Regions from separate parts of the Homo sapiens genome. Here region 2 is reported to be linked to region 1. The links are microRNA targets in miRTarBase. Many come from high-throughput screens and were not tested one by one. Region 1 holds a microRNA gene; the other region holds the end of a gene's coding sequence.

Region 1 (5,176 bases):
GCAGAGAGCACAGAGTGCCATGCCTGCCACGCAGAAACCAGTAAGCATGAGTTAGTGTTACTATTGTTGTTTGAAAGGATCAAGATTCTGTGTAAATGAGTCACAGGTATCCCAGATGCAGGATTTGCATAGCTGCTATAAAGAGGGTTTCCCACTGAAACTGGTGTAGGCATAAAGAACCCTGTGTTTCTCGTACAAAGGGAATTGAGAGAAACCACTTCATCCTTAACCTGCAGGGAGCTGGAGGAAGAAAGACCTGGAAGAGGCGACCAAAGTGAATGCATGGGTGCCAAAGGTTGGAGACCAGGACAAGGAGGAAGTGGGTTAGAACAGATGGAACTTGGGTGAGGTCTGTATCTATTTTGGAAACTGAAGCCCAGAACTGGGGCCACAATGGGGCAGGCTTTCACTTGCTCCCATTTATGAACCAACCAGCACCATGGGAAGAACGGGGTGGGATAGACTGAGAGACAACTGAATTGTATGCATTTTTGCTTTTTGGCTGATTATTCCAACTCAGGATTACACGAACTAATGCATGTGAAAGCATTTCCTAAATAACAAAACACTATGCAAATAGAGTATTAACATTTTTCTTCTGTGTAGAATTTATACCTAGAGATTCCCTCAAGTGATACTGAAGTAGTTTCTGCACTTCAAGCAGGTGTCTGAGCACAGTGCATAGAGGAGGGTCTGTGGGACTGGGAGTGGCCAAGGGAGGAGCCGAGCAGGGCTGGAAGAGCTGACCCAAGAGGCAGCTCTTCTGTGGATCCCAAGCCTGGAGCAGCAGAAGTTATGCTGAGGTTTTGCCAAACATCCCCAGAGTCTTCTGTTTGGAAGTTTCAAGGATATGCATTTTGTTAGTAGGGTTAGATGAGGTGAAAATGCGAAGCTGGTGATAAACGAAAGTTGTGCTTCAAGAGTTTGGCTCCTAGTCCATGTTTATTAATTGTTTGCTGAAATGAAGACAAGTGTGAGATGGTAATATAACACTAAAGTGTGCTAATAAGTCCATGGTGCTATGCTGAAAGTGCAAATAAGACCTTGCAAGTAAGTCCATGGTGTTTTGGATTTGATGTTAGCGGTAGCAGAAAGCCACTAATATAAGCCTTGAATGGTGTTCAGGGATCTTGTAAACTACTGAAAAGTGAGGAAATAAATGTATGTCCAAGGTCATTCATTTATTTAGCGGCCTTTAAAGAGGAACATTTTCACTGTGAGATAATAGTTGCTGTAGTGACTTATTTAAGCAAGATTACAGGCTCTTCTCTAAACAGGGCTGCACCTCTCCATTCACGGCACAAGAATGCACAATAGACTGGATTTTGAAATCAGTCTGCCTTCTGCTAACCAAGCCATGCACCCTAGTGTAGGGCTGCATCTCCTCAGAGAAAAGGACACATTTTTCCACTTTGCACAAAGGCATCCAATGGGGTAATGGCGGCCCTGTCTTGAACAATCTAAAAACACAATGCATGCTTTTCTGCTTAGACAACTTCTCAGGGTCACTTTCAGACACTGGGCTAAGAACCAATGAAACAAGCAATAAAGCTGAAGAAAAAGAAGATAAAAAACAATCAAAATGTAAGATAGAGGAAATGAAAAAGAACAGCAAAGTGAGCTGAATCATGAACAGCAGGAAATCTCGAGATAAGTGGAGGCTGTCCCTACATATTTCTGGTACTTTGAGTAAACATGGAGAGAAAGTTCACAGTGACCTAATCAGAAGCAGAAATGAAAATGGGGCAAAATGCCATGTGGGGGCATTTTGCAATAAGAAGCAACAGGAGTCTGGCACCTAAATCCAGCAACTGTGTAGCCAGGGTTGGAAAAAGTCCAGGTTACCAGCAACATGCCTGTTTTTTACGGAGAATGAGTGAAATGAATATGCTCCCAATGGTCCTCTGAGTTCTTCACATTCATCCCAACTCCCTTGCTCCTCTGCTCCAGCACTGCAGTGGAACTGGATGGCTACAGCTTACATTGCACGTTTCAATTTGGGCGATGGATGAGAACTTCTGTACTATGTTTGCATCTGCAAGACTCTGCTACTCTTGTTTTTAACTTCTGGATGTTCAGGTACACATTGAAAAAAGGAAGTCCTTAACTCTGAGAAGCAGTATCGTCCTGAAACTACCTAAGAAATGGCTCAAATCCTTTCAATTTCCAAGGAAAGCAAAAGTTACACATTAGAAACTGAGATGACAATACCTAAGCATATAATTTCATTGAGATAGATTAGATTAGCTTCAGGGACATATATGGCTCACAGTATATTCCATGCTTCTCCATAGGCCAGGAAGATTTGCAGCTAACACCCTTCCTGAATTCTTGTCCCTATAGGGCTTTTGTGTGGGACATCATTGATCCCTATGAGTTCCAGCTGAGGAATTTATGACATATTCTATTCCCCCCTGAGATTAGCCTTTAATAATTTATTTATTCATCCAACATTTAAGAGACCCCAATGGTGTTAGATGCTGGGAACCCAAAGACAACTAAGGCAAGATCACTGTCCCCAAAGTCCTTAGTAAGGGGAGATAAGACATGTAATTTTTAAAAGCCACAAAATGCTATGGTGCCATGACAGAGGTATGTCTGGGGAACAGAAGGGACTCCAAGAAGGAAGAGGTGCTTCCAGGTAAGACAAACTGTGGAAATAAAGCAGCTATAGGGCAAAGAACTTGTTGCAGTCAGGAAGATGCAGGTAGATCAGGTGACCAATTACAATCCTGTTCTTGGAGCTGGTAGGATAAAGGACAGACCCAGGTGGAAGAGGCGCAGGTGAAAGTTTTGCTCCTTCTGGGGTCTTCCTCTACATTTTGACCCAGGCCCGTCTAGGTGGAAATGTAGAGGAAGACCCCAGGAGAAGCATAACTTTCCTTTAACCCATATATCACAAGACTTGGCTGCCTTATGATGAAGCTATAGTTCCCAAATATGTCTTCAATGAAGAAAATTTAATGTTTAGGAATTCTAGAACTTGCAGAGTTGGGAGTTGCCTGGGAGATGAAATGTTCTCTCCATCACCTCCAGCCCTTGGTGCTGAGTTCATTAGCATGTTTAGTTCTAATTTTAGCTATGAAAAAATATATTTTAAAATATTGACACATTTATTATTTAGTGCTGGATTTAACTGTTTACACTTTCACTGATAAAAGATTAAAAATATGTCTTACTATATACTGCTGCCTATAGTTAAAACAGCATCCCTGTTTCTCTTTTTCTCTCTTGTTCTCTATTTTTGAAACTGAGTTAATAATCCCCTTGATGTAGAGATGGGGGATTTTCATCAGTACCAGATCATTTCACCTGCCTTTTCTCCTCCCTGAGATTTCCAATTTCCTGGTGCTTCCTTTTCACTACATTTACCACCCATTTCTTGGTTTTAGGTAAGATCCCATGGTCTCTCCCTATGAACACTATCTCTCACATAGTGTCAGCATTTCTAACTTCTTACCCTGGAGCTATCCACCTGGATCTTTCACCTAAACTCCTGAGTGCTTCTGGAGAAGGTAAAGATCTGTTTTGAGATGAATCTCAAACACTGTTAAGTAGGGCAGCATTTCTAAAGTCCACAGAGCAGCACAGTGGTCCACCTTCAAGTGTGATAGGCACTACCCACTACCTCCCCAAGAGCCATTTTCCCTTCTTTCAGTGTGTTCAGGTGGTAAGGAGAGATCTTTGCTTCCAAGGAGAGTGGTCCCCGACTCCAGGATAGGCCTAACCAGTCATGGAAATCTCCTTCCCTTTATCAATTGGTTGTTCTTGGTTTGGGCATTTGACCTTGTTCTGGCCAATAGGATATAAAAAGAAATCAGCTGGAGATATCCTAAGTAAAGACAAGATTTTGTGCTGTGTTAATTTCCTTGGGCTGCCATCACGAAGTATCACAAACTGGGTAGATTACAACAGAAATGTAGTATCTCACAATTCTGAAGGCCCTCAGACTGAAATAAGGTGTCAGCAGGGCCATGCTCCTTCTGAAAGCTGTAGGGGAAAAAACCTTTTCTTGTCTCTTCCTGGCTTCTGATGCTTGCCAATGAAGGGGTTTGGATTATGCCACCCCACAATATGCCACTCTGGCATATGGATTATTTTGACTTGAAGGCAACTGAGAAAAAGCAGACCCAGGATGAGATCTCTGTCCGCCTCCTATCTGCCTGAAAACAGAACATAAGCTCCCCTTGTGAAAGTGCCCCCCTCTACCCCCCTACCAGTAAAGGGATAACATAAAGGGACAACACCTTATCACTGGAGACAAGATGTCATCCAGAGGAATCTACAAAAACAAAACGTATTAACTAGCCCTCATCTACCATAAGTTTCCCCATATATTTGCCTTCCCACAATTTGCTGCCCCTAGAAGCTCAAAGTCATTTTCCTTTGTCTTGCCACTTCTCTACAAAATTATTGTTCTTTGCTCAATTCTATGTAAGTTCAAGTTCTTTTTTTTTTTCTTTTTTTTTAGACGGAGTCTCACTCTGTCACCCAGGCTGGAGTGCAGGGGCGCGATCTTGGCTCACTGCAACCCCTGCCCCCTGGGTTCAAGCAGTTCTCCTGCCTCAGTCTCCTGAGTAGCTGGGATTACAGGGGCGTGCCACCACATCTGGCTAATTTTGTTATTTTTAGTAGAGATGGGGTTTCACCATGTTGGTCAGGCTGGTCTCAAACTCTTGACCTCGTGATCCGCCCACCTTGGCCTCCCAAAGTGCTGGGATTACAGGTGTGAGCCACTGCACCAGACTAAGTTCAAGTTCTAACCACTCCTTTGAATTACTTATTACTGAATACTCCTATGTGTATGTGCAATGCATATTTCAATAAACTTGTTTGTTTTTCTCTTGTTAATCTGTCTTTTGTCAGTCTAATATACAGTCTTTTTTTTTTTTTGAGACTGAGTCTAGCTCTGCTGTTGCCCAAGCTGGAGTAGTAGTACCACGATTTCAGCTCACTGCAACCTCCACCTCCCAGGTTCAAGCAGTTCTGCTGCCTCAGCCTCCTGCATAGTTGGGATTACAGGTGCCTGCCACCAAGCCCAGCTAATCTTTGTATTTTCAGTAGAGATGGGGTTTCAACATGTTGGCCAGGCTGGTCTCGAACTGCTGGCCTTAAGTGATCCACCCCCGTCAGCCTTCCAAAGTGCTGGGATTACAGGTGTGAGCCACCGTGCCGG
Region 2 (5,000 bases), not on the chromosome of region 1:
TAGATATATGTACTTAAAGTCATATAAAAACATATATACATATACATGTCTATCTGAGATATAAATAATACATAAGGTAGGATAGAGGGGCAAGACAAGTAGAAGCTGATATCAAAGTTGGAGACAGACAACCACAAAAAAAAAAAAAGAACTTGAAAAGGAAAATATTCTGGAGCCATTAATTTGAAAAAGATGTGGACCTATACATTTATTAGCCCCTGAAGGCATTACGGTATCATAGGTGGCTTAAACTGTGTTTGTTGAATTTGAATTTAACAAAGCAACAGTGCTCATGAATTTCTGAAATGTGAAGAAAAGTTTAAATTATAGTCAAAGTACAGTGCTCTATTTAGGAAATGGGGAGCTATATTATCATTTTAGAAAGATTTTAATTCATAGTAACAAAATTGTTCTTATTCACGATGAACTTCTAGAAGATTCACACATAGAGGATATTTTTATGAAACAAAATAGGATAATATAGGCATTGTTTTGCATGACACAGTGCTGAGCATATGGTAAAAACTAGTAAATACTTGAAAAAGAATTCAGTATATACAGGGCCTTTTAAAAATGCACTTGATTACTTGACTGCTGGAGGACACGATAATATATTCCTTACCTACATTTTTCTACAAAATGTTGACAATCATAACAAGTCCTCATTTAGCCGCTGATTTGATTGAGCAAGTCACTGGCCTGTGTTCACTCAAATGGGAGACTAAAATGTAAAACTACTTCCTAAAAAGTTGACTAAGAAATTGATACCTTTTGTCAACCTAAAATAATAACACATTTCCTTTGAGCTTATCTCTTATTTTAAGCCCTCAAGATATGAAAACTACTACTGATAAGTACTGTAAAGAATCTGCAGTCAACTCACATTCTTTTATATAATTAGTAGGATTGCTCAGGCAGCTTATCTGCTTTAAGTTCTGAAAATCTCTTTATCCTTTATCTTCAGAAACACTAATCACTTGGGAAGGACAAGACTGAGAGAACTTGCTTTAAAGTCGATTAACAAATTTTTTTTTCATCAAATTCTATTGCTTGAGTTTCCTGGGTTTCTTGAATCTATTAGTTCAACTACTTCCCTTTCTGGTATCTGAAATTGTACTTTACATCCACTTGAGCATAGGTGAGTTGCTTGCATTTCCTGGCGAGATAAGCATTTCTGAAGGCCTTTTCTATTCATTCTTTGGCTGACTTTTGCCAGGCCCAGGGAACAGGGAACAACTAGTCTGAGAACTAGGAAGCCTTTGCTCTGGGTTTCCTTCTGTGATCTGGTAAGAGCCCTTTGGCTACCAGCCACAGAAATGACTGGCAACATTAAGCAAAAGAAACTCTTGGAAGGATAGCAAAGGCCCAGACTCAGCGGATGGCTGAAAATCTGGTTTGAAGATGGGCTGGTGCCATGGCCACTTCAGAGGCTGGGAAGCAGGAGCCTCAGCAACAGTTGCAGCAGGGACAGACAGCAAGAACAACACTGCTAGGATGAGATGGAACATCCAATCCCGGGGGGCTGGCCCAGGCTGGATGTTACATTTACAGTCCACTGGGCTCCATCCAACATGGAAAATGTCATTCCTTAGAGGAAATAAGGAGGCAGTTTGGGAAAAGAAACTTTTCCCATTGCATGCTGGCCAGATAACTTTGTCCACTACTGTGCTACTACCTAGTATCTTTAAAGTTGCTTCCAGCTTTGAAAACAAATGGAGAGTGCTTCTCCCATTAAAGCCGTTGGAATTACCACGTCTTAGCGATGTTTCCTTCTATGAATGCCTGTGAAACCAATGAACAATAATAGGACAAACCTGGAAGACTTTTGTGAACAATGGGGGTTTATGTGGCTATAATAGTTATCTATTGCTGTATAACAGTATTAGCACAAACTTATATCTTAAAATACATGTTTATTGTCTCATAGTTTCTGTGTGTCAGGAATCCATACATGGCTCAGTTTGGGTCCTCTGTAGGGTCTTATAAGGCTGCGATCAAAGTGGAACTGGGAGCTGTGGTCTCATCTGAGGCTTGACTGGGGAAAGAGCCACTCTGAGCTCATTCAGGTTGTTTGCAGAATTTGTGGCCATATGCAGGACTGATTTGTTTTTTGCTGGTTGTTGGCTACGGCCTGCCTTTTGCTGAAAGGCTGCCCACAGGCCCTTGCCACTTTGGGCCCACCGACATGGCTGCTTTGATTCCTAAAAGCCAGCAAGGGAGAGAGACTACAGCAAGATGGGCACCACAGTCTTATGACATGTGACCACATAACCACACACACAGTCACACGCCCCGTCACCTTTACTGTATCCTATTGGTTAGAAGTAAGTTACAGGTCCCAGCCACACTCAAGGGGAGGGGAGAACACAAGGGTGTAAACACCAGGAGGTGGGGATCAAGGGGCAACCTCACAAACCTGTCAGAGAAGCAGTACTGGGTGGGACAGTGTCCAGAGCTGCCTGGAAATCTAACACCTCCCTTCTTCCTATGCGTCTAATTTCCCCAGGAAGGTAATTCTTTATGTGGAGAATTGATGAGGGGAACAAAACAAAACCTTGGCTTCCAATCTCTCTAGCTCAACCACAGAGGAGAAGTGGGAGGGAGACGTAAGAACCTCCTCAGAGACACAGCAGCTGTCTGTCTTGGTGTTTCTCTCATAGTTCCGTGTAACCAATTAAATCTAGTAGCCTCTACAGAACTATATATTTTGTCTTTATCTACCACTGGGCAACTTATCTTTTCTCTTTATTGCATGGAAATGCTTTATTTATTCATGTGTACATACTATCTTTCTCAACTATAAGCACCTTGAAGGCAGGGGCCATTTCTTAAATCAGAGACCATTCACCTGTTCTCTAAGAAGGATAAAAACAAAGGTACTTTGGAGGAAATAGTTCATATTGGTTCTCTAGTGGTGGAGGAAGAGGGGTTTCTAGGTCAAGGTGCAAATCTGCCCTCTTCTAGCTGTACTTGGTTGTGCAAACAAAACATGTGTATTTGAAAGGGCTGACTTTATTAATGCTCAGATTACCCTGAATCAATGTGCTTGATTCCTACTAGAGCTGCTAGGCATGTCTCTAGAAGTAAATGGGCAATGGATAATGAGGTCCAATAGACATGAGCTGAGACTTGCATACACTAGCAGTGTGACCATGGACTTGTTGCTTTAATCCCTGTGAGCCTCAGTTGTAGCTCACAGATATGATACATTTAAAACGTATAACCCTGTCTACATATAGTAAACATGTAGGAAATAGATACTATGATGCTCCTTTAAGACCCTAACCAGGGAAAGCACTTGTCAATTCTCAAGGTGCAGTTCTTCCCATAACAAACGGGTCAAAGAGATGCACACTTAACACACTGGAACTTGTCCCTTCTCTTGGAGCTCCTGGGGGTTCTCCAGGTGTGGAGGACATTAGAATCCTTACTGCCGTTTTCCTGTCCCTGGAGCTGGGCCATCCAAGAAGTATGTTAAGAGAGCTGGTACAGACCCACCTCTGAGTAGAGCAGGAAGCGTGGGACAGATGCTGGTCACACCAGGGCCCCTAGGCGCCTACCTTTCATTTCTAATCTCGTGGAGTGTGGTAGGAAGCACATGGGACTTAGCTAGGTGTTCTTGGCCAAGCAACAACCTCTCCAAAGCCAATTTTACTTCTGCAAAAGTGGAGCAATCTCAAGGGTCAAAATGGGGGACAGAATGTAGAAACATTCTATAAACTTTGCATATCTAATGGAACCCAGCATGGATACTCTTTACTAAGAATTTGCCTCTGTGATTAGGTAAATTTTAATTTTCTCCCAACAGTGCCCTAACCGGCGAAATGAAAATGCTAACTATATTTTAGAAAAGTTTTAATTTGAACAACTTATGATTAAAAATACATTTTATAAATAATTTTTCCATAGACTTGATTGAGGATTGTTGCAAACTTTACAAAAAGATACACTGCAACAACAGATTAAAGAAATTACAAAAAATATAGCTATACCCCTATTTAAAAATACAACATTATACATCACACAGCATTTTCTTTGTGCAAAATGTTTAAGGGAATGCTGTGTTAGGCATGTCAAGCATATTTGCTTAGAGGGAAGTAAACTTTAATACAGTTACTTTGCATAATAGTATAGGCATAGCTAAAATAATGGATTTTTCCCCCTAGAAGTTAATATATCTTAGAGTTCAACATTTTACTTTTATTTTGTAGGATTGAAAGCTAAACTTAGCTTTATACAAATATATGTGTGTGTGTGTGTGTGTGTGTGTGTGTATATATATATATGTATGAAAACAACTATCTGATTTCACATTGAACAAATCCCCAACGTATTTACAGTATTTTCAGAGAATGTGTTCTCCAAATCAGTCTGTGTACATTTTCTCTATTAAACAACTCTTTAGAAAATTAAACTAAGCCAACATCTGTTGATTAATGGACATCCTCTGTTGAGACTTCCAGTTTTCGCTGTGGGACAAAGAGAGTTCCTAAGGAGGTTTTATTAGCACCCTCAAAATCCATGCAGGATGAGCTGGTTGGCTTGGTGGGTCCACCTGGGGTACGGAAGAAACTTTCGGCCACTAATTGTGACCCTTTGGGTGTCACAGGAACAGGCTGATTGGAAAGAGAAGAATGGACAAAAGAAGTCAACCACACACAGGTACATAGTCTTACCAGACTTGGAAGATTGGGCTGGATGAATGTATTGCACATTGGGAAACTGGCGTATCTTGAAATTGGCGAGGGAAGCTTTGGTGAGTTTTACATTCTCAATTATTTTTGTTAGGGGAGAGACAAAAATCTCATGATAACCCAACAATATGGATGCCTTGGACACTCTTCCTGGGTTCTGGAAGAAACATAGGCCTTCAATCTCCTGACTTTCCCATCCTTTCCCTCTCCAAAGAGGAAAAGCAAAAGCCAATCTCTTATGACACAGATACTTGGGGCTTAGTAATTCCAGGAAAAATTAAATTAAGTAGAAAGCCTCTCACCTGT

Evidence for each region. Region 1 holds the annotated microRNA hsa-miR-4698 (UCAAAAUGUAGAGGAAGACCCCA, at 2,804-2,826, opposite strand). A microRNA usually pairs through its seed, bases 2 to 8, with sites in the 3' UTR of a target mRNA and lowers its output. Matches are read on the target gene's strand: a 7mer-m8 pairs with bases 2 to 8, a 7mer-A1 pairs with bases 2 to 7 and ends in A, and an 8mer does both.
Region 2: miRTarBase lists E2F8 as a target of hsa-miR-4698. Seed matches in the 3' UTR shown: 7mer-m8 at 4,041-4,047.

Annotation. Positions count from the first base shown.
Region 1 is chr12:47,185,510-47,190,685 of GRCh38, reverse strand. MIR4698 (microRNA 4698) reads right to left here and starts at 2,874; the gene lies at 2,795-2,874. All of the region lies in intron 2 of PCED1B (PC-esterase domain containing 1B), which reads right to left.
Region 2 is chr11:19,220,225-19,225,224 of GRCh38, forward strand. It overlaps E2F8 (E2F transcription factor 8), which reads right to left. Exons shown (of 13, transcript NM_024680.4): 12 at 4,997-5,000; 13 at 3,839-4,616. The coding sequence ends at 4,434. All of the region lies in intron 1 of CSRP3-AS1 (CSRP3 and E2F8 antisense RNA 1), which reads left to right. Among named protein-coding and RNA genes, the nearest start is that of E2F8, 18 kb to the right of the region's middle.